Linked DNA regions of Homo sapiens. The protein of the gene in region 3 interacts with the protein of the main gene of each other region in a biochemical or structural test. Each region holds a gene or a part of one and is shown on either strand. Other genes may lie near its edges.

What was found.
Region 1: the proteins of A2M (region 3) and PAEP form a complex in vitro, tested with the Homo sapiens proteins (one study listed by BioGRID).
Region 2: the proteins of A2M (region 3) and MMP2 form a complex in vitro, tested with the Homo sapiens proteins (one study listed by BioGRID).
Region 4: the proteins of A2M (region 3) and SLC6A4 form a complex in vitro, tested with the Homo sapiens proteins (one study listed by BioGRID).

What each region holds. Positions count from the first base shown.
Region 1 is NC_000009.12:135,564,730-135,567,481, reverse strand, and holds the end of PAEP (glycodelin isoform 1 precursor), read right to left. Parts: intron 2,145-2,752; coding exon of another isoform or gene 2,073-2,144; coding exon 1,968-2,072; intron 1,698-1,967; coding exon 1,681-1,697; exon of another isoform or gene 1,652-1,680; intron 949-1,651; exon of another isoform or gene 930-948; 3' UTR 527-929; downstream 1-526. UniProt on the Homo sapiens protein: Glycoprotein that regulates critical steps during fertilization and also has immunomonomodulatory effects. Four glycoforms, namely glycodelin-S, -A, -F and -C have been identified in reproductive tissues that differ in glycosylation and biological activity.
Region 2 is NC_000016.10:55,496,198-55,503,197, forward strand, and holds part of MMP2 (72 kDa type IV collagenase isoform 1 preproprotein), read left to right. Parts: intron 1-728; coding exon 729-865; intron 866-2,091; coding exon 2,092-2,251; intron 2,252-6,581; coding exon 6,582-6,691; intron 6,692-7,000.
Region 3 is NC_000012.12:9,070,900-9,077,951, reverse strand, and holds part of A2M (alpha-2-macroglobulin isoform a precursor), read left to right. Parts: intron 1-94; coding exon 95-251; intron 252-531; coding exon 532-606; intron 607-1,015; coding exon 1,016-1,196; intron 1,197-3,168; coding exon 3,169-3,392; intron 3,393-5,080; coding exon 5,081-5,299; intron 5,300-5,465; coding exon 5,466-5,593; intron 5,594-7,052. UniProt on the Homo sapiens protein: Is able to inhibit all four classes of proteinases by a unique 'trapping' mechanism. This protein has a peptide stretch, called the 'bait region' which contains specific cleavage sites for different proteinases.
Region 4 is NC_000017.11:30,232,680-30,239,719, reverse strand, and holds the start of SLC6A4 (sodium-dependent serotonin transporter), read left to right. Parts: upstream 1-4,022; 5' UTR 4,023-4,107; intron 4,108-7,040.

The DNA.
Region 1 (2,752 bases), on a different chromosome or scaffold from region 3:
GACACAGACCTCTGACTGTGTCTGTCTGTCTGCCTTGGGAAGGGTCCTTACCTACTCTGTCTCCAGTCTTCTCTGATCTGTTTTGGATGCTTATATTTGCCTTGAAATCATCTCTTTTGGATTGTAAAAAATATATTCTGGAGTCAAATAGCATAATCCCTTATGACTCTTTTAATCTATTTTCTCTTAATCTGTGGTGATTGATACTTGCTGGAATTTTTTTTCCTGGGTGTTTCTGACAGGTGAGCTAAATCCTACCATGCCCACCCCTCCCCACCTGGGGGCACAGGTGCATGAATTTGATATGTTTCTCTGATTTTGTCATTTTTGCTTTTATCTTCCTTCATTCTATTTTCTTACTTTCCTCATTCTAACGCTTTTTTTTCTAACAAGAGCTCATTACAGATTCATTGATTTTAATTATTTCTTGCTAACCCATTTCAGTATTAAAGACTATGAGTTTTCCTCTGGGCTCATCAATTCTGATATGAGTGTCCTGGTTTTATTGTTCTAGACATTTCACAAGTTTGTGAAAGTGGACCCTTTTGTTTTGTAGATAAGAAACTTGAGGTATTTTCTCCACCAGAAGCTGCCCATGGGTCTGTAGGAGCTCCGGTTCTGCCAGGCGGTGGCCTGGGCCTGCCCCGACCCCAGGCCCTCGTCCCTGAATCCCACACCCAGCAGTGGCTGCGCATCCAGACAGGACATGCTCCAAGGGTTTATTAATAACCTCTGCCAGAGACTCTGCCCCCAGGGAGCAGCCTCCCCATGGCCGTGGTGCAGGTGTGCAGCAGGAAGGGGATGGCGACACAGATGACCACGTCATCGTCTTCTGAGCTGTGGTTATTCTTTGAAAGGGCAGGAGGAAGTCCCACTGCTCTGGAGGTGTGGAAGGGTGGGAGTCTGGTCTTCCTGGAGGCGGAGGTGAGCTGTTGGGTTTACAGGTCACTTAAGTAGAGGGAGGAAGAGCAGGGTGTTTCGGGGGAGCCCTGGAAGGATGTGGTGGGCTTGAGGACACCCCCTTAAGAATGTGGCACTGAAATCCCAGCACTTTGGGAGGCTAAAGCGGGGGGATCATGAGGTCAAGAGATTGAGACCATCGTGGCCAACATGGTGAAACCCCGTTTCTATTAAAAATACAAAAATTAGCTGGGCATGGTGGCACACGCCTGTGGTTCCAGCAACTCGGGGGGTTGAGGCAGGAGAATCGCTTGAACCCAGGAGGTCGAGGTTGCAGTGAGCTGAGATTGTGCCACTGCACTCCAGCCTGGTGACAGAGCGAGACTCCATCTTAAAAAAAGAAAAAAAAAAAAGAACGTGGGACCGAGACCTGCAGGTCCCCAGCTTCTCATGCCCTTCCATGTAACCATCCTCCTTCCTCCTCCTATAGCCCCCACCATTTCCAACCAACACCCCTAACCCCAAAAGAAAGCATGAGGTCTGACTATAGGGCACAAGCCCGTGACTAATACAATGGCTGCAAGACACAGGCTGGGCTCGTGAATGGGGACGTCAGCAGCCTGGCTTTCTGGAATCACAAGACCAGACCCCAGTTCATTCCTGTAGGGTCAGCCCTGAACTGGACACAGTAGGGTCTGTCCCAGGGGCCCAGAGAGGCAGCCGCAGACAGTGGGCGAGGCTGATACATTACCCAGGAGGCAGGACCAGGCAGGAGCTCACCTAGAAACGGCACGGCTCTGTGGGAGGAGATGGGACAGTGGAGGTGTCAGCGAGAGAAGAGACAGCTGGGGACACAGCAGCCCCAGGGCTAGAGAAGGGATGAAAGGATGGTGGGAGAGGGCAGGACCCCACCTCAGGGTGGCTCTGCACCCCAGAAGGCCAGGGGAGAACAGGGGAGGGGCCAAAAAGGAGTGACCTGAGTCCTGCAGAGCCAGCAGGGGGCTCGGGCTAAGAAAGAGGCAGCTTCTCCTCCAGCTGAGGCTGGGCGTGTCCTAGGCAGAGCTCACCTTCCATCTGTTTCAAGTCCAGCAAGTACCATAGGTGCCTGGGCAGGGGCCTGAAAGCCCTGATGAATCCCTGCATGATCTCATCGTCCTCCACCAGGACTCTGGCTGTGGAAGAGGCTGGGTCAGTCCTGGGCCCCTGGGGCTTCCATGAGAGCTGGGGAGCTCCAGAGGCCTTGCCTGAGGAGGGAGGGCAGAGAAGGAGGCCCCAGTGCTCCGAGGTCTGGCAGAGTTTGGTCTGGAGTAGGTCCCTAGGGCGGTCTCCGGGGCTCTGTCCACTGCACCTCCAGGTTCCCTGACCCCAGCTCCCACTCCTTGGCCCGGCCCCCTCTGCTCCGCTCTGGGCAGCGCTGGGGTCTGCACAGCTTAGGATGGTGTCTACAGCGTCACAGGAGAGCACAGTGCCTGGCTCTCCCAGTGCCCGGCTCTCACCAAGCATGGCTGAGGCTGATCAAGAAGACACCTGTGTGACCCCAGAGGAAACACTGTGCTCAGAAACATGGGGAAGGGCTGTGCCTATGTGGCTATTTTGGTATTCCTGGCCTTCGTTTGGTTGACAGCATCATAGGTTTCAGGGCGTTTTGACTGGACGCCCAGTGAGTATTAATCTATCCACCAAGCCCAGCCCCTTGACTGGCGACCGTCCCACTGGCCCTATATCAGCTCCTTGCTTTGTCAGAGGACTCGATGAACCGCTGGAGAAAAACTCAGCCTGGCCGGGCGTGGTGGCTCACGCCTGTAATCCCAGCCCTTTGGGAGGCCAAGGCGGGTGGATCACTTGATCCAGG
Region 2 (7,000 bases), on a different chromosome or scaffold from region 3:
TTCTCAGGTGACGCAGATGCTGCTGGTCAGGAGACTGCACTTTGAGAACCAGTGGCTTATACCAATCAGTATCTACCCCTAGAATGGGGGTAGGGGACACAGGGTCAGAGGAGGTGAAGGCTGGATCATAAATGTGGAGTTTTGTGAAGAAGGATGGTGGGGAAATAGATAATTAATGCTAGGTAGACCATCCAGAGTGCATGCTGTCTTAAAAGATTGTGGGGATTAAATTACAAGGCACATAAATAAAGCACATGGCATTTAGTAGGACCCTCAATAAATGATAACTCTTACTCTTGACAAAGTACACAAATTCATTTCATTTTAATTCAGGAAATACTTGAGTGTCATCAGCTCCTGCCCCAATTGGCCTCTAATCAAATAGGAGAGTTAAGACAAACAGACACTACTGTTCCAGGCACTCAGAGTTGATGATTTTGAGAGGCTTAGAGAGGGAAAACACAATATGGATGGAGGTAGTCAGGGAAGGCTTCCTGGAGGAGGTAGAGGGAGAGAACAGGGTAGGAGGATGTTTCTCAGCTCCAGCAGATTGCAGACAGGAACTCTGCCCGTTCTCCAGTCCTTCTCCAACCTTCCTTTGATCCTGCCTCCCACTCCCATCATGGAATCATCTCTGGGATGTTTCTGGGTGGGTTTGGGGGTGTGTGTGGTTCGAGCTGCAGGGTGACTGAAGATGTGGTTTCCTGTGCCCCCTTGCCTCCTGCCAGGTTCATTTGGCGGACTGTGACGCCACGTGACAAGCCCATGGGGCCCCTGCTGGTGGCCACATTCTGGCCTGAGCTCCCGGAAAAGATTGATGCGGTATACGAGGCCCCACAGGAGGAGAAGGCTGTGTTCTTTGCAGGTGTGTGGGAAGCACCCTTCCTTGGCCCTCAGCTCCACAGGGCTCTGCACCAGGGCTCCTGGGTGTCCCAGGCTCACTCCCCCTCTCAAACCACAGTTCCTATGCACCCGTGGGTGCTCCCTTTCCTTTATGGATTCATTCTTTCAACATTATTTCCTGAAGTGCGCAGCTCCTCTGGGAGATTGGTTCCGACACCCAACATCAGATAGCATTAACCCTCAGTGTACACATTTCATTTTCTTAATTCTTTTCAATCCGTCTCATTTCTTTTCTAGAAGAAAAAAAGTCTCAGTTTAGTGCTGGTGTGTCCCTAACGCCTTTGTAGTGATACAGTCTTTGGCAGGTAACAGTTTTAGTTCGAATGTTTTAAAGAATATTTGTTTTCATTTTTACTTTTAGACATAAATTGGTTTTAACAGAGGCAGTTAGTTATAATAGTGTGGAGTTTCAAATCAGGACAGAAACGGATTATTCAGTAACTGATATTTTGACAGTCAAAAAACATTTTTTAATAAATTTATTTTTAAAGATTTCAAAATGAATTCACTGAAAGCAGAATGTTAAGTAAATAATAGTACAGGGAGCCCCTAGAAGTGGTAGAAATCATCAAGGTGAGGTCTGTATGGCTAAGGTTTACTCATTTAACATTTATTGGAGCATTTCCATGCGCTGGGCTTTGCCATACCCTGGGGATACAAGCTCTGCCTTCGCGATGCTCACAAACCACTCAGGGAGACAGACAGCTGGGCTCTTATGAGGGGTAAAGAAGGATTTAGGAGGTCCCTGTCCTGGTCTGAGGTGGGATCCTAGAGAAGATAAAGGCTCAGCCAAGACTATTGTCTCCACCACCTGGCTCCCACCTCCCCCAATCCACCGTAATCATGGGTCCCGGAGAGGACAACTGCTGGCTCCTAGGGCACCTTTTTGCAAATTAGCAAAAGGTGCCTCTTTATGACAGCAAGGCCCTTAGAGTGCACGACTTGGTGAGCAGAGTGTGAGCTGGATTTATCCCCCAACTCATGTCCTTGACCAGGCACCTTCTGTAATTGACTTCTAAAGCCCTCTGTGTGAGCCCTGATTCTGGGCACTGCAACCAGGAGTGAGCAGGAAGTTGCACTCTGTTGGGAATGGCTGCAGTGGGGCCCGTGGACAGACAGATGATGGGAGGAACAGGCTGGCCTAGGGCATGTCAGCACCAGCCAACACACCCTTTGCTTCCACCCCAGGGAATGAATACTGGATCTACTCAGCCAGCACCCTGGAGCGAGGGTACCCCAAGCCACTGACCAGCCTGGGACTGCCCCCTGATGTCCAGCGAGTGGATGCCGCCTTTAACTGGAGCAAAAACAAGAAGACATACATCTTTGCTGGAGACAAATTCTGGAGGTAAGGGAGGGCGGTGGGTAGGACAGCAGCACAGTTGGCTGCGAGAGACAGAGAAGCCGCCCTGAGGCTTCAAGCCTCCTGGGCTGAGTTCAGAGGTTGGTGGGCTCTGGATGCCCTCTCTCTGGTATCTAACCTCTTTGGTCTCTGGCACCTCTGAGATGTTGCCAAAGGTGAACCATTCTTGTACACATTGCTGATATAATTCTGGTGGAATATCCTTTCTCTTTGCAGAATTCTTTTGATTGGCCCATGTCTGGTCTGGACCCTCACATTTTGAAATGACTCACTGAAGAAGGGGGTAATAAAAATAAAGATAATAACTGCTCCTATTGACACTATGTGTCAGAGACTGTCCCAAGGGTTCTATGGGATAGGAATTATTATTCCTCCCATTTTACAGATGAGGAAACCTGGGTTCAGAAAGGTTAGGTAACCGTGGCTGGGCACAGTGGCTCACGCCTGTAATCCCAGCACTTTGGGAGGCCAAGATGGGTGGATCACTTGAGCTCAGGAGTTCCAGATCAGCCTGGCCACATGGTGAAACCCCATCTCTACTAAAAATGCAAAAAAATTAGCTGGACATGGTGGTGCATGCCTGCAATCCCAGCTACTAGGGAGACTGAGGCAGGGGAATCACTTAAACCTGGAAGACAGAAGTTGCAGTGAGCTGAGATCATGCCACTGCACTCCAGCCTGGGCAACAGAGTGAGACTCCAACTCAAAAAAAAAAAAAAGAAAAAAGAAAGGTTAAGTAACCAGCTTGGAGTCACATAGCCAGGTAGGGACAGGTTGGGATTTGAACCCTGGCATTCTGTCTCCTGGGAAAACATGTTAGTCTTCACTCTTCACTACTATTCTATACCCGAGATGGTGGAATGGGGGTTCCAAGAGATGGGGGAACATGAAGGCAGTGGACAAAATATGAAGAAGACTTAGAGATGGGTGCACCAGTCATCCATAGAAGCCAGCATCCAAATCAGACCCCATGGAAGGAGCAGGTGCCCTGTGTCATGCTCACAGCAGGCCCGTGGCTGTGGGTGCAGGTTGGCAGGGGAACAATTTGGAAGCAGATGGTTCTGTGCTCCAGGTTATCTACAGGAAAGGGTCCAGTTCTGAGGGGCTATAGTCATGACCAGGGAACCTAATATCCAGGAGTGGCTGGTGAGAGGTAGCCCAAACCTCAGGAGTTTGACTGTAATTCTTCACACTTTCTAGAAAAGGAAACGGAGGTCCAAAGAAATTAAATAACTTGTTCAAGCTATAGAGATATGTGTATTTGCACAAAGCCAGGATTATAGCTACTTCTCTTGTATTCTAACTGAGTACCCCCTCCACTATACCTGCCAGTCCATTTGATTAGTGAGGAAAGAGTGGTCGGGGCACAAAGACTTGTGGTGTGTCTTTCCATCCCCTCCCTCCTGGTATCCCCACATTCCTTCCATGGCTGCCACTGCATCTGGGCCCTACCCAAGAATTTTAGAGGGCACTTCCTGAGGCCTTTGTCTGCCATCCCCAAAACAATCCCGCTTACTTCCTAAGGCCTCTGTCTTCTCCCCCTTCCCTCCTCCCCACTACTCTGCCCCCCAGCTGCCCTGCATTCAGAAACTCTTTATATCCCAGGCCTGCCCATGTCAGGGTGGAATTCCAGACATATTGCTAAGACACTTAGCAACCTAAGCTGATTGATATCTCAAGCCTCAAGAAAGAAAACAGTCAGGCAGGAAACCACAGAGCAGGCTTTCCACCCACCAGCTCCAGACACTAGCCCCAGACAGTGTGCACGCACACGCACACACACACACGCGTACTGCGAATGGCATCTCAGCATTGTAGGAGCCCTGAATCTCCAAGTCTTAGAATTGTGGCTGGTGAGCCGCACAGACTCACAGAAACGTGAATCTTAGAATCCTAAAGCCCTGAAGTTTTCAAATTATGGTGTTGGAAGAACTTTTTAAATCACTTTTCCATGCACTGTATCTATGTAAACATGCAAAAACAGACCTGTTCCTAGCATATAGGAACATGATTGTGTGCGCATGTGCGCATACACACACACACACACACACACACACACACACACACACACACACAGGCATGGAGGTTGTGGCAGTGCCTTGCTGGATTTCCAGGCAGAGTTATTTGCCTCCCAGTCCTTTTCCACACAAGCCCACCTCCCAAAGCCAGAGCCAGGACAGACAGCGTGCTCTACAGAGGAACCACCCTGAGACTTCCTGAAAAGGGACAGAGCTGAAGGGCCTATCAGAAGCTCTGGGCTGGCTTCCAAAGGAGACAGATCTCTATTCCAAGAGAAGTGGTGAATGAGCTTGTGACACTGGCCCTGCCGTGGAGTCTGCAGAGGCCCCAGAGGCATCTTTGCTGGAGAAGGAGAGAGAGCCCCAGAGTGACAGAGGCTGAGCAGCTGTCTTCAGCATGCCAAGAAGAGCTCAGGCCCTGCTTGTAGAAGCTTTCACTAAGCCACAAATATATGTTCCACATCTGCTGTGTGCCAGGCACTTAGCTAGCTGCTGGAGAGACGGGGGTCAAAAAATCATCACACCCTGCCCTCATGTAGTTTATAGTAGAATGAGGGAAAATTATGTAAACACATTTGAATCAGATAATGATGGCTCTCAGTATGGGGCCTCTACCATAGCCCAGCCTGAGGCTATGCAGGTCACCTATATTTCTCAGTTGAGGTAGATACTGTTAGCTCCTTTTCCCAAGTGTGGAAACTGAGGCTAAAGTGGCTCAAGGAAAAGCTGGGACACAAATATCTGTGTTCTTAACACCTGCTATACATGGCAACTTCTACAGCTGCAGAGAAGTACCACATCTTCTGACACCACAGTGCTTGTATTCTTTCTGGATGAAAAGAACTTGGAAGCAAACTAATTCTCTTATCTGAGACTCAGTTTCCTCATCTGTAAAATGGGCTTGACTTCTGCCATCCCCACCTTCTGTGGGTAGAATGAGAAAGAAATGAGGGCCAGTTCAAGTGTGGGACACACATCTCCAAACTATCCTAACGCTAGGGAATGTAGTTTGAGGGCTCAGTGGAGGTGCCTTGGATGGGAGTGTTGGGATTTTGAGCTAGGGAACTTGGTTTTGGTGACCCAGGGCATGAGGAAGCATGCCAGGTTTTGTAAGAATGAGTTTTATGCTGCACCTGGGATTAAGGAAGGCGTTAGTTCTTCGGGGTGATGGCTGAGGGAGAAGTCCCTTTGAGGGAGAAGTCTCCTCTAGAAGGGAGCATATAGGGAAAGCTGCTGTTGGGGTCCAGGGTGGAGGTGGTCAAGGCTGGCTGCAGAAAGGAAGGGAGCCCCCTAGGAGGCACTGTGGAGCAAAAGGTGGCTGCTACCAGGATGGGATGCGAACACAGATTCATCTAGAAACAGCTCCACTTGGGCAAGACTTGTTTACTAGGATATCCATAGCTCCCATAGTGGGAGCTCAGTAAATATTTATGGAATAATGAAGTGGAGAGGCAAAGGAATCAACATGACAGCAGCATTTAAAAAGTTCTCCAAAAATCTTAAAAGACAGAAGGATTGCTAGCCAGGGAGAAGAACATACTAACCGATGCCCAAAGTATTTACCTGAATTAAAGGCGGGGCCCAGGATTGCTGCCGCCGGAACTGAGGTGGCATGTGGCCCACCCTGTGACTAACAGGCCTTGGACTTACACGTACCTTCCACCTTGCATTGTAACCTCACTGCCCCAGCCATGGTCATCTCCCAGGGCAGGGACTGTCATCTCCCTGTGGCAGATGAAGAAGCAGCAATTTTTCCAAGCCATGAAGTGAAAGAATGATGGGGCAGATTCCCATCCCTGGGCTTCTAGTTTAGCACTCCTCGGATTACAGCAGGGATTTGTTTGTAAGGGAGCTAACATTTCTTAAGTACCTACTAAATATTTATGAGACATGGGGATAGAGGCTCTGCATGTGCTGTTTTATTTAATGCATGCATTAAATTAAATACACTAAATTAGACACAACCCCATTTTACAGCTGGTAAAACTGTAGCTGTATGGAAAGTGGTTAACACACTGTTTGGCATGTAGTAAGTGCTTTATAAATGTTAGCAGTAATCATGAGATTGTTTTTATGGGGTCATCCAAAGTCATATAATTAAAAGTGGTAGATCTGAGGCTCAGACTCAGGTCTGATTCCATGCCCTTCCTTCCACTGCAGCTGGCTGCTTCCCTGAAGGGCTAGGTCCAGTTTCCGAGGCCTATCCAGGAGCCATCAGCTGGGTGCTCCCATCCAGGCCAGGGGGGAAGTGTCCTTTAGAGAGGCCCTGCTGGTTCACTGTGTCTGTTTCTTTACAGATACAATGAGGTGAAGAAGAAAATGGATCCTGGCTTCCCCAAGCTCATCGCAGATGCCTGGAATGCCATCCCCGATAACCTGGATGCCGTCGTGGACCTGCAGGGCGGCGGTGAGCCACCCAGGACTGTCTCCGCTTTCTAGGACTCCCCGCCCCTAGCCAGGGCCCAGCTCCTTGCAAATACACACTTCTTTATTGTGCAGGGCAGGCAGGCAGGCGGCGCCCAGGAAAACAAATCAACTCCTTCATCCTAGTGCTGGGAAGGTTTCCAGATCCCTGACCTCTGCTCCTTGGCCTGGCTCCAGGCAGTAAGACCCAGAAAGACTTCTCACAGCTGCAGGGCCTGGAGCCAGGGCAGGGGAGGGCGGAAGGCCTGGGCCAGGGGAGAAGGAACATGGGCTCTGTGCCGTGGATTCATTC
Region 3 (7,052 bases):
TAGCTAACTCACATCATATGAAGCCTGTTGCTGTGAAGTGGTTATAAAACCATTTTGACAACATAAACATCATGATTGCTTCCTCCCTGGTCAGGCTCACAGCCTTTGTTCTGAAGACTTTTGCCCAAGCTCGAGCCTACATCTTCATCGATGAAGCACACATTACCCAAGCCCTCATATGGCTCTCCCAGAGGCAGAAGGACAATGGCTGTTTCAGGAGCTCTGGGTCACTGCTCAACAATGCCATAAAGGTGAATCATTCTGGAGCTAGTTTTGATTTGTCCATTATGATATCTGCAAGGATGAGGATAGGAAGTGATAATGTGAAAAATTCTAAGGGAAAGCCTCAGAGGAAAATAAAACCTGGATGGCACCAAAAAAGAGGGGATAGAACAAAAGTTGATTGTGATACTTTGCCCTATAGGGATGGATATGGGTAAGGATGAATTCCATGACACAGCAGAATAGAAAGAACTAATCAATAGCATTCTCAGAAGTTGAATTATTCAGATCTCTCTCTCGTATTCACAGGGAGGAGTAGAAGATGAAGTGACCCTCTCCGCCTATATCACCATCGCCCTTCTGGAGATTCCTCTCACAGTCACTGTAGGTACCACCCCATTCCTCTGCTGAAGGAGAGTTCTGGATGCAATGAAACTGCTGACCTGCTGTCTGAAATACTATCCTATTAAAAGCAAAGCATCAGCTTTCTTTCTATGCAATGCCAGTGCTTCCCAGATCTACAGAGAATTTGGTCAGCCCATTAAGAAAGGTTTAAATTTTCCCAGTAATTCCCCTAGGCTATTTACCACCACCACTCAAAAAAGAATCTTAAAGATGTATCTTTTGAATGTGAGAATAACAGATAAAAATAATATTATATCTATTGATAAGAATGAGGAATCGTTGGAAAAATGCGTTTGAAAAACTTCTGTGCTGTGATCCGTGTATTTGCCTGGGAATGCTAATATGCCTGTTTACATAGCTTAGTTCCCTTCTTGTTCTGCCTTCACAGCACCCTGTTGTCCGCAATGCCCTGTTTTGCCTGGAGTCAGCCTGGAAGACAGCACAAGAAGGGGACCATGGCAGCCATGTATATACCAAAGCACTGCTGGCCTATGCTTTTGCCCTGGCAGGTAACCAGGACAAGAGGAAGGAAGTACTCAAGTCACTTAATGAGGAAGCTGTGAAGAAAGGTGAGAGCACACCTGAGATCCTTCTCCTGGCCCATCCTCTGTATCAAGAACTGCATGGCAAAAATCCCTCACTCCTACCTCCTGTGATCCCTGTCTCCTCTCTTCTTTTCTATATATCATATATATTTTGTCCATATTGCATCTTATAAAATCTAGGATTTCTTAATCAAATCAGAAATCAGAAGACAAGAGGCCGTGCAGATGCTTCTCAATTACGATGGGGTTATATCCTGACAAACTCATTGTAAAGTCTAAAAAATCTTAAGTGGGACCATTGTAAGTCAGGGACCATCTCTATAGTATGCTGGTAAGAAGAGCATTCTCTGGAGACTAGCTCCAAAATGTGCTACCTATGTGAGCTTGGGAAAGTCATTAACTTCCTTGTGTTTCAGTTCCTTCATCAGTAAAATGGGGATAATAATAGTATTTACCTCACAGAGCTGTTGTAATAAATGAATTGGTACACGTAAAACACTTAGTAGAGTACATGTCACATAGCAAATCCTATAAAAGTACTAGTTATTACAATTAACATATCAGTTCTCAATATATGCCCAACCCTTACCTGGTACATTATATAACCTTAAACATAAGAAAATAATCATGGAAGTAACTCCTTGAATGAATTCTGGTATTTTAAGCCCATTTCATAAGACCAATAATGTTGACCAATCTACTCATATTCACACAGTACTTCTACATATACCATGGTCTATATGAGCGGTTGAAGAAATAGAAAATAAAATGCAAATCACAAGATGTCCATTAAAACAGTCTACCTTTTTCCTTTGACAGCCATTAATTCTTCTTAAAATGTATTGAGAAATATTTTATAATAGATATACAAAAGGGCATAAGCTATAACTAGAAAACACTGTACAACTCTCTCATAGATTAAGAAATAGAAAATTACCGACATGGGAAAAATAAATCCCTTGTGTATCACTACCACCTCCAGAGGCAATCATTATCCTGAATTTGTCGTTACAATTCCATGGATTTCCTTATATTTTTGCTGCATATGTATCCCTAACTAATATTTAGAATCTTCACATGTGTTTCATCTTGAGAGAAACAAGATTTTTATTTCTCTCTTATTCAAGAAACAAGAGAAACATTTTTGAATATTTCAGCAGCTTAGTTTTTTGTTTGTCTGCTTTTTATTTTCTAAGTTCAACACTATGTTGATGAAGACCCCTATACAAGTATGTGCAGAGTCAGCTCATTAATTTTCACTGCTGCATAATATATTACAGTCTATAAATTAGTCATAATTTACACATCGAGTTTCTCCTCATGGATTTTTTTTATGTTTTGCTATTAAAAAAAATGCTGCAATGAATACTCATGTGCCTGTTTTCTTGTGCATCTGTGTTTCTCCAAATTATGCTTTGAGAAGCATAATGACTGATTAGTGGGCTAAGCACATCTTCCCCATTGCTGAATATTGCCAAAGAGCAGTTGGCTTCCCACAGCAGTGTATATTGGTTCCCATTGTTTCACATCCATGTCAGCCTTTGGTATTTCAAGGATTACTGTATTTTTTTTTTCAATTTAATGAGTAGAAACTCTACTATTTCATGTGATCTGTGATCCTCACAAGAAACTGATAAAGACACACTTTATAGGAAATGTAACAAACTCCAGCTATAGTCTAATATAACATCATAAATAGGAAATAGCCAGACTCAATGAGACAACTGCTGTGCCATTTCTTTCTCCCACCAACCCGACTATAGCAACGATTTGAAAACATAGATAGGCATAGGCTTCTGACTCCAGCATCAATATCTGCCTTAGCTGGGCTAAAACACACCAAATTCAGATTTACATGAAGGGAAAAGCATCTACATACAGTACAGGGGATTATAATGGGCATGCAATTCTCATTTCAGCACTGGCTTGGGTACTTTCACCTTGAATTAAATATAAATATGTAGGCACTTATAAATATCTTTTTCTCATCTTTAAGACAACTCTGTCCATTGGGAGCGCCCTCAGAAACCCAAGGCACCAGTGGGGCATTTTTACGAACCCCAGGCTCCCTCTGCTGAGGTGGAGATGACATCCTATGTGCTCCTCGCTTATCTCACGGCCCAGCCAGCCCCAACCTCGGAGGACCTGACCTCTGCAACCAACATCGTGAAGTGGATCACGAAGCAGCAGAATGCCCAGGGCGGTTTCTCCTCCACCCAGGTTGGTGATTTGCCAAAACCTTTTATTTCACCTTCAGGTAGCAAAAGATTTGAATGAAAAAGAAACAAACACATCCAAGAAGAAAAAAATACAGATGACAGTAACTTGAAATGAGGAAAAGTTTTCAGTATCCAAGGATAATGGAAATAAAAGCAAATCAAAGTCAAAGAGGGCCAAAAGGAAATGCTCAGAATCCCGGCACCCCATCGCTGTGTTATTATCCATCTCCTATTTCCCATAACAACACTGCCTTCCTCAAGCAGCAGTGGAGCACCAGCAGAATGAAGGAGATGTCTCCTGCCATTCTCCTGAAAGCTCTAGGGTCTCTTTCAAACTGTTCAAAGGAACTCTACTCAAAATCCAACAACCTCTCCTCGCAAATCTCTCCATTCTTAGGTCCCCTTTAATAGGCTTTTCTCAAAACTACACATTTTGTGCTTCCCCTATTCACCTTTTTTTTTTTTTTTTTTTTAAGACAGAGTCTTGCTCTGTCACCTAGGCTGGAATGCAGTGGTGCAATCTCGGCTCACTGCAACCTCCATCTCCCAGGTTCAAGCGATTCTAGTGCCTCAGCCTCCCAAGTATCTAGGATTACAGTCATGTGCAATCATGCCTGGCTAATTTTTGTATTTTTAGTAGAGACGAGGTTTTGCCATGTTGCCCAGGCTGATCTCGAAGTCCTGAGCTCAGGCAATCCATCCGCCTTGGCCTCACAAAGTGCTAGGATTATAGGTGTGAGCCACTGCGTCCAGCCCCCTATTCACCTCTTAATACACAAACATTTATTCATCAGGAGCATAAAGAACTGTCTTTATTCATCCAACCTCCTAAATCTAGCTATATAACCATGTATCTGAACAATTCATTGATATGTACACAGCAGAAAGTTTTATCTTCAGAGAATTCGGATGTTTGCTTATATACCCTAAAACGGAAAAAATGTGACAAAATGGCATTCCATCCTATTTCCATTGTATTAATCTTTTATCATATGAATGAAAAAAACTAAGTAATTTTGTTAAAGGTTATCATTCATTTATTAGAAACATATTATTTGAAGGAGGCCAAGCAGGTTTAATGTTGTTGAGGATACATACCAGCAGACATTCACTGGGAACAGGAAATCATCCAATAAAAAGGGAAAGCCAAATAAAAATGTCATTAAATCCAGAAGATAATTATAATACTCATCTTTTATTTCTTTTGGAGAAACTGAAGCATGACTCTGCTCATGGCTGCAAAGAACCTTGGGTTCTCTCCAGGACACTGACCTCAGCAACTGAGCAAAGTTTAATATGGGAGAGAGCCAGACTGAACTTTGCTTGAGTGGTGGCAGATATGAGCATAGTTGTCAAGAAAGACATGTTAGCAAATAGCTGATGCCAATAACTGATTGCCATTCACATGTTTTCCACATTCCATGTCCCACATATACTTACAGAGAGAAAAGGATCAATTTTCTGATAAATAAAATAAACATGTAGGGCATACAGTCCAAGGTAGATATGTGAATGTTATGGTTCTTCAACTATCTAAAGATTATAATCAATCTTGAAATTACAGCTCCTATATTTAAGTAGTGAGGGAAGTAGGAAATCAAAGTCCCTCACATGGGTCTTTGAAAAATATCTCAGCCCTCAAAGCCTTATAATGCCCAATGGGTTCTCTCACTCATCTGTCTCTAACAGGACACAGTGGTGGCTCTCCATGCTCTGTCCAAATATGGAGCAGCCACATTTACCAGGACTGGGAAGGCTGCACAGGTGACTATCCAGTCTTCAGGGACATTTTCCAGCAAATTCCAAGTGGACAACAACAACCGCCTGTTACTGCAGCAGGTCTCATTGCCAGAGCTGCCTGGGGAATACAGCATGAAAGTGACAGGAGAAGGATGTGTCTACCTCCAGGTGAGACTCTTGGGCAGGTGAGGACAGGACAGATGAGGACAGCAGCTGTTCTCTCTGAGAAGTCCTAACTCAGAAAACAATGGGACAGATCAGAGAAAGGGTTAGGGACGTGGACAGGAATTCTGGGAAAGGGCAAAAAACTGATTTTGTCTTTGATGTTCTATAGACATCCTTGAAATACAATATTCTCCCAGAAAAGGAAGAGTTCCCCTTTGCTTTAGGAGTGCAGACTCTGCCTCAAACTTGTGATGAACCCAAAGCCCACACCAGCTTCCAAATCTCCCTAAGTGTCAGGTAAGACCTTCTGACTCTATCACCTAATCCTAAGAATAACCACCAGTCTTCTTTCGGGAACTCCTCTTTAAGTAAAGCAGTGCAACAGTAGATATTTGCACTATTCACAAAAAATGCAATGTATTCTCTTAAGTTGATATAATTTCTCAATGATGGGGTTTACATTGTCCATCCAGGATCTACTATTGTGCAACCTCATTGTTTAAAGGGTAATAATTTCCCTCAATAACAACTAAGTAAATATTACCCATTGCCTCTGACCTGAATTCCTTGTTATGTAATGAAATCCTATATTATTCTTGCTTTATTGAAGATAGAGATGAAGAATTATTGAAAAGTTTGAATAGAAGGAAGTAGTGACTCCTTAGTTAGAATTCCTACTGGCAATAATAAATCTCAGGTTATATATGATATAATTAATTTGGGGGGAAGATACACTTATATGCATCAATATTTAAATAGCTGCAGATCTGATAAAAAACTCTCTCTCCACAAACATATTATTACTTGGTTGGAGATACTATTCAGGAAAAAAGTTAGGACAAAATACATGTAACAAATAACTGGCACACATCAAAAAGAATGAGATCATGACCTTTGCAGGAACATGGATGGAGATGGAGGTCATTATCCTTGGCAAACTAGCACAGGAATGGAAAACCAAACACTGCATGTTCTCATTTGTAAGTGGGAGCTAAATGATGAGAACATATGGACACAAAAAGGAGAACAACAGACACCAGAGCCTACTTGAGGGTTAAGGATGGGAGGAGGGAGAAGATCAGAAAAAAACAACAATTCAGTGCAAAATTTAGTACCCAAGTGATAAAGTAATCTGTACACCAAACCCCCATGACACGAGTTTACCTATATAACAAACCTGCATGTGTACGCCTGAACCTAAAAGTTAAGTATATATATATATATTTTTTTCATTTAATTTGGTGTATATATATGCCAAAAAATAAATTAAGCAGTCCAAATTTCGGATGCAAACTCTCGGGGACAAGACGCTAGGTGTTTCTAAGTGTTTTGTTGAAAGCCAGTGTTTAAGTAAACATTATAAATTATTGTTGTTTTTGTAAATAATGTAGACTGAAATTTATTATTCATAATATACATCATTTTGTCAGCTGAAAGAAAATAAAAGTAAACAAATAAATAAAATAACTGGCATAGATTAGAGGTCACAAACAGCCTGTGCATCACTTGTAGAGCTTTCTTAAAATGCAGATCCTCAGCCGGGCGTGGTGGCTCACGCCTGTAATCTCAGCACTTTGGGAGGCCAAGGCGGGCAGATTACCTTAGGTCGGGAGTTCAAGACCAGCCTGACCAACATGGAGAAACCCCGTCTGTACTAAAAATACAAAATTAGTCGGACGTGGTGGTGCATGCCTGTAATCCCAGCTACTCGGGAGGCTGAGGCAGGAGAATCACTTGAACCCAGGAGGCGGAGGTT
Region 4 (7,040 bases), on a different chromosome or scaffold from region 3:
AATGACAAAATGAACCTACTTCCAAATGTTTCTGGCCTTTCTTAGGGCTGAACCTGATCTGTTCCTCCCCCAAACCCCCCGCACTCCCAAAAGGACCTTGTCTGGAGTTCCCTTTAGCTTGCTTCATCTGGATGGGGTGGGCCTGCTAGGGGCTCCCATGGAGACCTCCGTAGAGATGAGCCCAGGGTTCACAGTGGCAGCAAGTCCTGCCTTGGAGGTGCCACTGAACATGAATGTAGAGTCACCAGAACCATGCCAGGAAAAACTGGGGGTCCCAGGAAAAACCAGGGGTGTCGGGGAGGTGCTGGTGGGAATGGAGCAAGATGACACTCTAAGGACTGAATATTGTCAGCATTTTCCTGGGCCTGAGAAAAAGCCCACAAGGAGGGGTGGGCCTTCTTCTTTCGTTATTGTATAAACAGGGCAGAGACAGGACAGACAGATGGCACCAAGGGCTTCCGGAGGGAGAGCCTGGGATTCGCATGGTTCGGTCCTGGCTGGCTCCACAGGGGACTCACTGCTGGCCTTTGAGACTTCCAGGAAGTGGGTTTTCTTGGTGGTGTTTGGGGCAGGTGTAAATATTTATGTGCCCCTTTCCTCTTAAAGTGAAAGCTTGTATTTATTCTGAGCCCCAGAGCAGCTTCTAAGCCCCACTATTTCTGGGCTCAAGCAGGTGAACAAAGAAAAACTATTGCTGTGCGGTGATTGCCAGGCAGCCTCTTCCCAGCTGCCCAGGACCTGTCGCCCTTGACATCTCCCTGGCTGTCCCTATACACCACCAGCACCAAGCTTCGCAGGTGCCTGCTGGGTTTCTGGCTTGCATCTCTTCCCTGCGGCCACCAGCTGACGCCTGCATTCACATTCTAAGGAACCCGTCTGTCCCAACCACCACGACAACCCCCTTCCCCCCTACTCTTACCTGCAGCCCACGCAGGTCACAGCCATTAGATCCTTCCCCTGAAGCGCTGCTTCCCTCCTGCCGCACTCAGGGCTCCCTCCTGCCTTCCATGCCCAGGACAGGGCCTCCCGGCCTCTCCAGGTCTCTGGAGCAGAGAGGTTGTGCCTTCCTCATGCGGTCAGGCTCAGGCTGGGAAGGAGCGGCCCAGAGGCGGGGGGAGGCACGGGTGCGGGGCTGCCTCTTCCCCGGTAGTGGACGCTGAAGCCTGTCCACCTGAATTGGAGGCGGGGCGGGGCAGTCGACTGACCGCCAGGCAGGGGAGCAGGGCGCGGGCTCAGAGGGAGGGAGTGGGAGGCCGAGGAAGGACAAGGTGCTTGTGGCGATGAGTATCAGAAGGCAGAGCGGAGCTGCTCAAGAGAGGCTGGCTCTGTGGAGGTGAGGACCTGCAGGTGGGCCTGGCCTCTCTGTGGGATGGTACCCAGGGCAGGAGGAAGAGAAACACCTGTTTAGAGAGAGGGGGAGGGTCTGGGCCAGTTGTGTGCGGACTCTGCCATGGAGGCAGGGGGAACCAGGGCGGGGCCGTCTGTGTAATTCTAATGTCATTTGCTAATGGTGGTTGCCCGCAGCTGGGGAGCAAGAGGGGAGGAGATGGGACCACCCGGCCAGAGAGAGGAGGGGTCGAAGGCCCCCTTGGAGGAAGGGCCCAGCGCACAGGGCCTGCAAGGAGTTGGCCCCTTCCCCACCCACAGCTGGGCAGTGCCCACTGAGATCATCCTCCCTACTTCACAAACAGAGACACAAAGGCCAGACAGCTTGAGGTTAAGGAGCTCGGTCAAGCCCACACCACAGTACAGGGTGGGGGCCGGGATTTGACCCAGGTCCACAGGGTGCCCACTCTCTAGGCAGCACCTGCACAGAACAGGGCAGTGCCATAGGGAGGGGCTGCGCGCTGGGCAGGAATGCATCTTCGGCTAGAAAGAGTCTAGAAGGAAGATCAGAAGTGGCGAGACTGCACAATTAAGAAGTGCTAAGAAGTCACACTGGACAGACCTGGTCTTGGTAGCCAAGCGCTGAAGTCACCCCTGCAGCCGTCCTCCGCTTTGGCGCCTCTTCCCAGCGTCCCTGCCCCCCTCCTTTGGCCCTCCTGGAAAGGACACTTTGCGTTTTCTGTTGCCCTTGCCTATACAGCACAAACATGCTCATTTAAGAAGTGGAACGTGGGAGGCAGCAGACAACTGTGTTCATCTGAAAGGAGGAGGCCCCACTCCCGTGCAGGCGCTGCCCCTGGGGGTGAAATTCCCAAGCTTGTTGGGGATTCTCCCGCCTGGCGTTGCCGCTCTGAATGCCAGCACCTAACCCCTAATGTCCCTACTGCAGCCCTCCCAGCATCCCCCCTGCAACCTCCCAGCAACTCCCTGTACCCCTCCTAGGATCGCTCCTGCATCCCCCATTATCCCCCCCTTCACCCCTCGCGGCATCCCCCCTGCACCCCCAGCATCCCCCCTGCAGCCCCCCCAGCATCTCCCCTGCACCCCCAGCATCCCCCCTGCAGCCCTTCCAGCATCCCCCTGCACCTCTCCCAGGATCTCCCCTGCAACCCCCATTATCCCCCCTGCACCCCTCGCAGTATCCCCCCTGCACCCCCCAGCATCCCCCCATGCACCCCCGGCATCCCCCCTGCACCCCTCCAGCATTCTCCTTGCACCCTACCAGTATTCCCCCGCATCCCGGCCTCCAAGCCTCCCGCCCACCTTGCGGTCCCCGCCCTGGCGTCTAGGTGGCACCAGAATCCCGCGCGGACTCCACCCGCTGGGAGCTGCCCTCGCTTGCCCGTGGTTGTCCAGCTCAGTCCCTCTAGACGCTCAGCCCAACCGGCCGCACAGTTTTCAGGGGTCAGTTCCTCCAAGTACAAGGGGCGGTGGCTTCTCTGGAGCTGCAAACTTGTCACTGCTATTTCCTTTCGGTCTTCTACTTCCTATCGTTCCTGGCCTCCTCTTGGGGAGAGGTAGAGCCCTCTCCTTTCCGCCTCAGGGACAACCCAAAGCAAGTACTGCATGTGCCCTTTTTAAAGTTTTAAATAATTTTAGCAAAAAGGATATTAACATTAAATCAATTTTTAAACTTTTTGAAAAAATTATCAAAACTACATGCACATGGTTCAAAACAATAGGCTCCTGCTGGGCCCTTTCAGATAATTCAAATTGTCACCAGGTTGGAGTGCAGTGGTTCGATCACGGCTCACTGCAGCCTCGACCTCCCGGGCTCAGCTGATCCTCCACCTCAGCCTCCTGAGTAGCTGGGAACACAAGCGCGAGCAACCACGCCCGGCTAATTAAAAAAATTTTTTTTCTAGAGATGGGGTCTTGCTGTGTTGCCCAGGCTGGTCTTGAATTCCTGGGCTCAAGCAATCCTCCCGCCTCAGCCTCCCAAAGCACTGTGCTCCTTTTTGACGCAGCTTTGAACTGTAGCTGGTTAACAAAATGAGAACCAGTTCTTCATTCCTTCATTGTGGAAGTCTTTATTGTGAGACTCTGGGGACGGAGAGGAATTAGACAAGGGCCTCTAAGCTGAGCTCACATCCCAGCCGGTCAGTCAGATAAACGCATGGGTATCGAGTACTGCTAGGTCCCAGGAAGAAAGAGAGAGCAGCTTTCGGGATGGGGACGATGGGGAGGTGTCCGAGGTCAAGAGAAAGCGGCACGAGCAGACCCCTGTGTGCCGTCCTGTGGGCGCGGGGCGGCAGGGGAGGCGCACACCTGCTCCTTTGTGCAGCCTCCCCCCTCCCGCAAAGTTAAAGAGCAGGAAAGTCAGGATTCCTCGCTCGGCCCTGCCCTGCCGGCTGCTCCGCGCTCCGCTCCTCCCTGCGAGCGTGTGTGTGTGTCGGGGGTCCCTCCCCTCCTGGCTCTGGGGTCGGGCGCGCACCCCGCCCCGTAGCGCGGCCCCTCCCTGGCGAGCGCAACCCCATCCAGCGGGAGCGCGGAGCCGCGGCCGCGGGGAAGCATTAAGTTTATTCGCCTCAAAGTGACGCAAAAATTCTTCAAGAGCTCTTTGGCGGCGGCTATCTAGAGATCAGACCATGTGAGGGCCCGCGGGTACAAATACGGCCGCGCCGGCGCCCCTCCGCACAGCCAGCGCCGCCGGGTGCCTCGAGGGCGCGAGGCCAGCCCGCCTGCCCAGCCCGGGACCAGCCTCCCCGCGCAGCCTGGCAGGTGGGTCCGCTTTTCCTCTCCGCCTCGAACCCACGTTTCTTTCCAGACCTTCTTCCCCGCCTCGGGGAGGGGGATAGAACCGCTGCGCCCCACCGCCCTGCGAGGAGGCGAGGAGGTGCATGCGCCCCAGCGGTGGGCGCCGGATCCTGCCCCTGCGCCCTCCACGCTCAGCAAGAGCCAGAGCTGAAGCTGACCGGCCAGAGTGGGAGACGAGGAACGTGGAGTGCTCGAAGTGGGCGGGCGTAGGGGGCTCCTTTGTCTATTGTTGCAGGGGCTTTGCAACCTCTTGAGGACCCGTGAAAGACCCCTTAAAGAGGGTCTTGAGCAAAGTGCTGTCCTGCGCTTTGGGAAGAGTTGCTTGCTTTCGTTTCAACCCATGGTTTATGTTTGATCTTTACTTTGCTGTCATCGCGTGCAGGTGGCTTTATGCAAAGGGAGAGTTCTGGTTGACACAAATGCCCAGACAGCTAGAGAAATCTCTGAGTGGCGCCTAAGTGGGCCGAGTCTCCGTGCGCTTGGGTGGTTTCACTGTCAGAGCTGAGGCGCTCTCAGACACCTCACAGGCCATTCAGAATGTATGTGAAACTCCAACTCCAACGACTGTGCTACGTGGTTGAAGGATATAACCATCATTTGCTTGAAAATTGTGTACATTCAAACTTGTTCTTGAAAAAAAGCTCTCTGGAGCTCAAGAGTGGATTTGGGTCTTGGGCTAAGGAGCAGATTTTCTTCTGAACTGGGGCTTTTGCATATTGAATTGTTCCTTTTCCATTTGGGACTCTGAAGAATTTGAGAGGGGTAGAATTTCTGAATCAGACATTACAAAGACTTTGTGTATGTATTTTTACCATCAGTTTTGTCCAGAAAAGTGAACCTGGTCAATGGATTATTTATGAGCCTGCTAGCTAACTCTCATCATAGGAAGACGAGAGCAAATATTTAATGTGTTTTGCCTTCAGTTACATAGGAAAAATGTCTAAGAAGGTGACATTGGGACTTGTGTTTAATGAAACAGAGAACTGTGGGCAGCGTCAGTGTTGGGTTTTTAGGAGCGTAGGGAGCACACAGCTTTGACTCTTTGTCCCATTACTTGCTTCTGTGTGAAGCCACTGAGGCCCCAGGGTTCGGGTTTTCCTGCCACGCACTCTGGGGTGGCAGTGACCGTTCCAATATGGATGAGTGAGAAGCAGGTTCTTATGAGGTTTGTGCAAATTGAGCAAGCCACTTGGGGCATGGGTTTTTCCTCTTTTCTTTCTTTCTTTCTTTTTCCCACTAAAGAACAGATTGAAAGTGCTTCACAATTAATCAAAAGTCCCCTCAACACTCTGGTGATCCATCTAAGACCTCTCAGAGATATAACCACCAGCACAGATATTCAAACCCATTTTTTTCAATCTCCTTGTTTAAGAAATATATATATACTAGGAGTGGGATGGGGGAATAATGTTGATGTTTTAATGGAATCTGAAAGACCTCAGAAATTCCTCTCGGGGGATGTTTAGAGTCGTCTGAGCATTTTGATGAAACTTGGAGAGGCATGTTGAAGAGTTTCGCAAATAGGTGAGGTGCCTGAGGAATGGGGATGCTTGGCTGGAGGGGGGTTAGGAGCATGGATCAGTCTGTTTCTTACAGCAGGTGCTTGCTTCCCAAACACCCTGGATGTCCGCTGCCAAACAGAAACACAGGTAACTCCAGACATTAAGCCAATACGTGGCAGCTCCTTCTCCTTCCTAGTTGTGGAATGAATGGTATAATTGGAGAGAATATAGAAGGCAGGGCTTCCTGAAGAAGCTTAATTTTAATTTGGCTTCATGAATCAACAGGATATGGTCATGACTTGACTTTTTCTAAAGATGTCTGGACAGCCAGAGCAAAAATTATACAGTCACTTTTGGTTGTTGTTGAGAAGGTAACTCAGACCTTAGTTATTCCCAGTAACATATCAGCTCCTCGTGGTCCTCAGCTCTAAATGAGGGGCTGTGGAGAGGACTGCCTAACACGATGTCCGAGTCCCCTCCAACTCACTCTGCAACCATGACCCTAACCTCTCCACTTTAAGAAAACATGAGTTGAAATGATGGTGCAAAAATGCCGGAGGGCCGGTACTCTCTACCCAGATATCACCTTCAAATCAGGGTCTCCTGGGGATCCCCTCAGGTTTCACTCTAAGGCAGAGGCTTTGCACACTCTGACACATGTAAGTAAGTTAACCCCTGCACCTTAACCACAGCCAACCAACAGGGGCCCAATAACCCGACTCCCCAGCTGCCCAAATGCCCTTTGCAAGATGCCCAGGGTGTGGTGCGGTAGAAATAGCCCCCAGGCAGCACAAATTTGGGCTGCACCGATTTTCCTGTCCAGTCCCTGGGCTATTAACAGCCACCTCCACTCCCTGATGTTTGCGGTGTTCCATGGAACATACGTGGGTGTGGAGCGAAACATCTCATAAAAGCGCCTGTTTCTCCACACTTGGGACAAGTGAGGCAGACTCCCTTGCTCTTACAGGGAATCTGTTTCTGGGCTTAACCAGGCAAAATGACATTCCAAGGGAAGAAAACTCCCATCTTTCTAGGAGGGACCCAGGGGAAAACAGATGAAACTAGCCTTTCACAGAAACCTGGCATCAATGATCTTCCCTGAGCAGAAAGGCAAATTGCTCTTCCAGGTGGGCACGGGCTCCACCATTGGCCTGCACAGCCCCGTACTTCCAGGTGGAGCTCACGGTGCTGACTTTGGTTCACATTCAGAAATGTTGCCCTGTGAGAAACGTCTCTGCAGGGGCTGCTCCCTTCAGCCTGACTTTTGTTTGCTCTGGGTGACTGGGAAGACGAATGCTCATTTACTGAATGTCAACAACGCGCTTTTAAATGGGAGCAAGTGTTTTCCCAGCCCTGTGTCTAATGAGGTGACAAAATGAGTAGCGATAAAGTGGA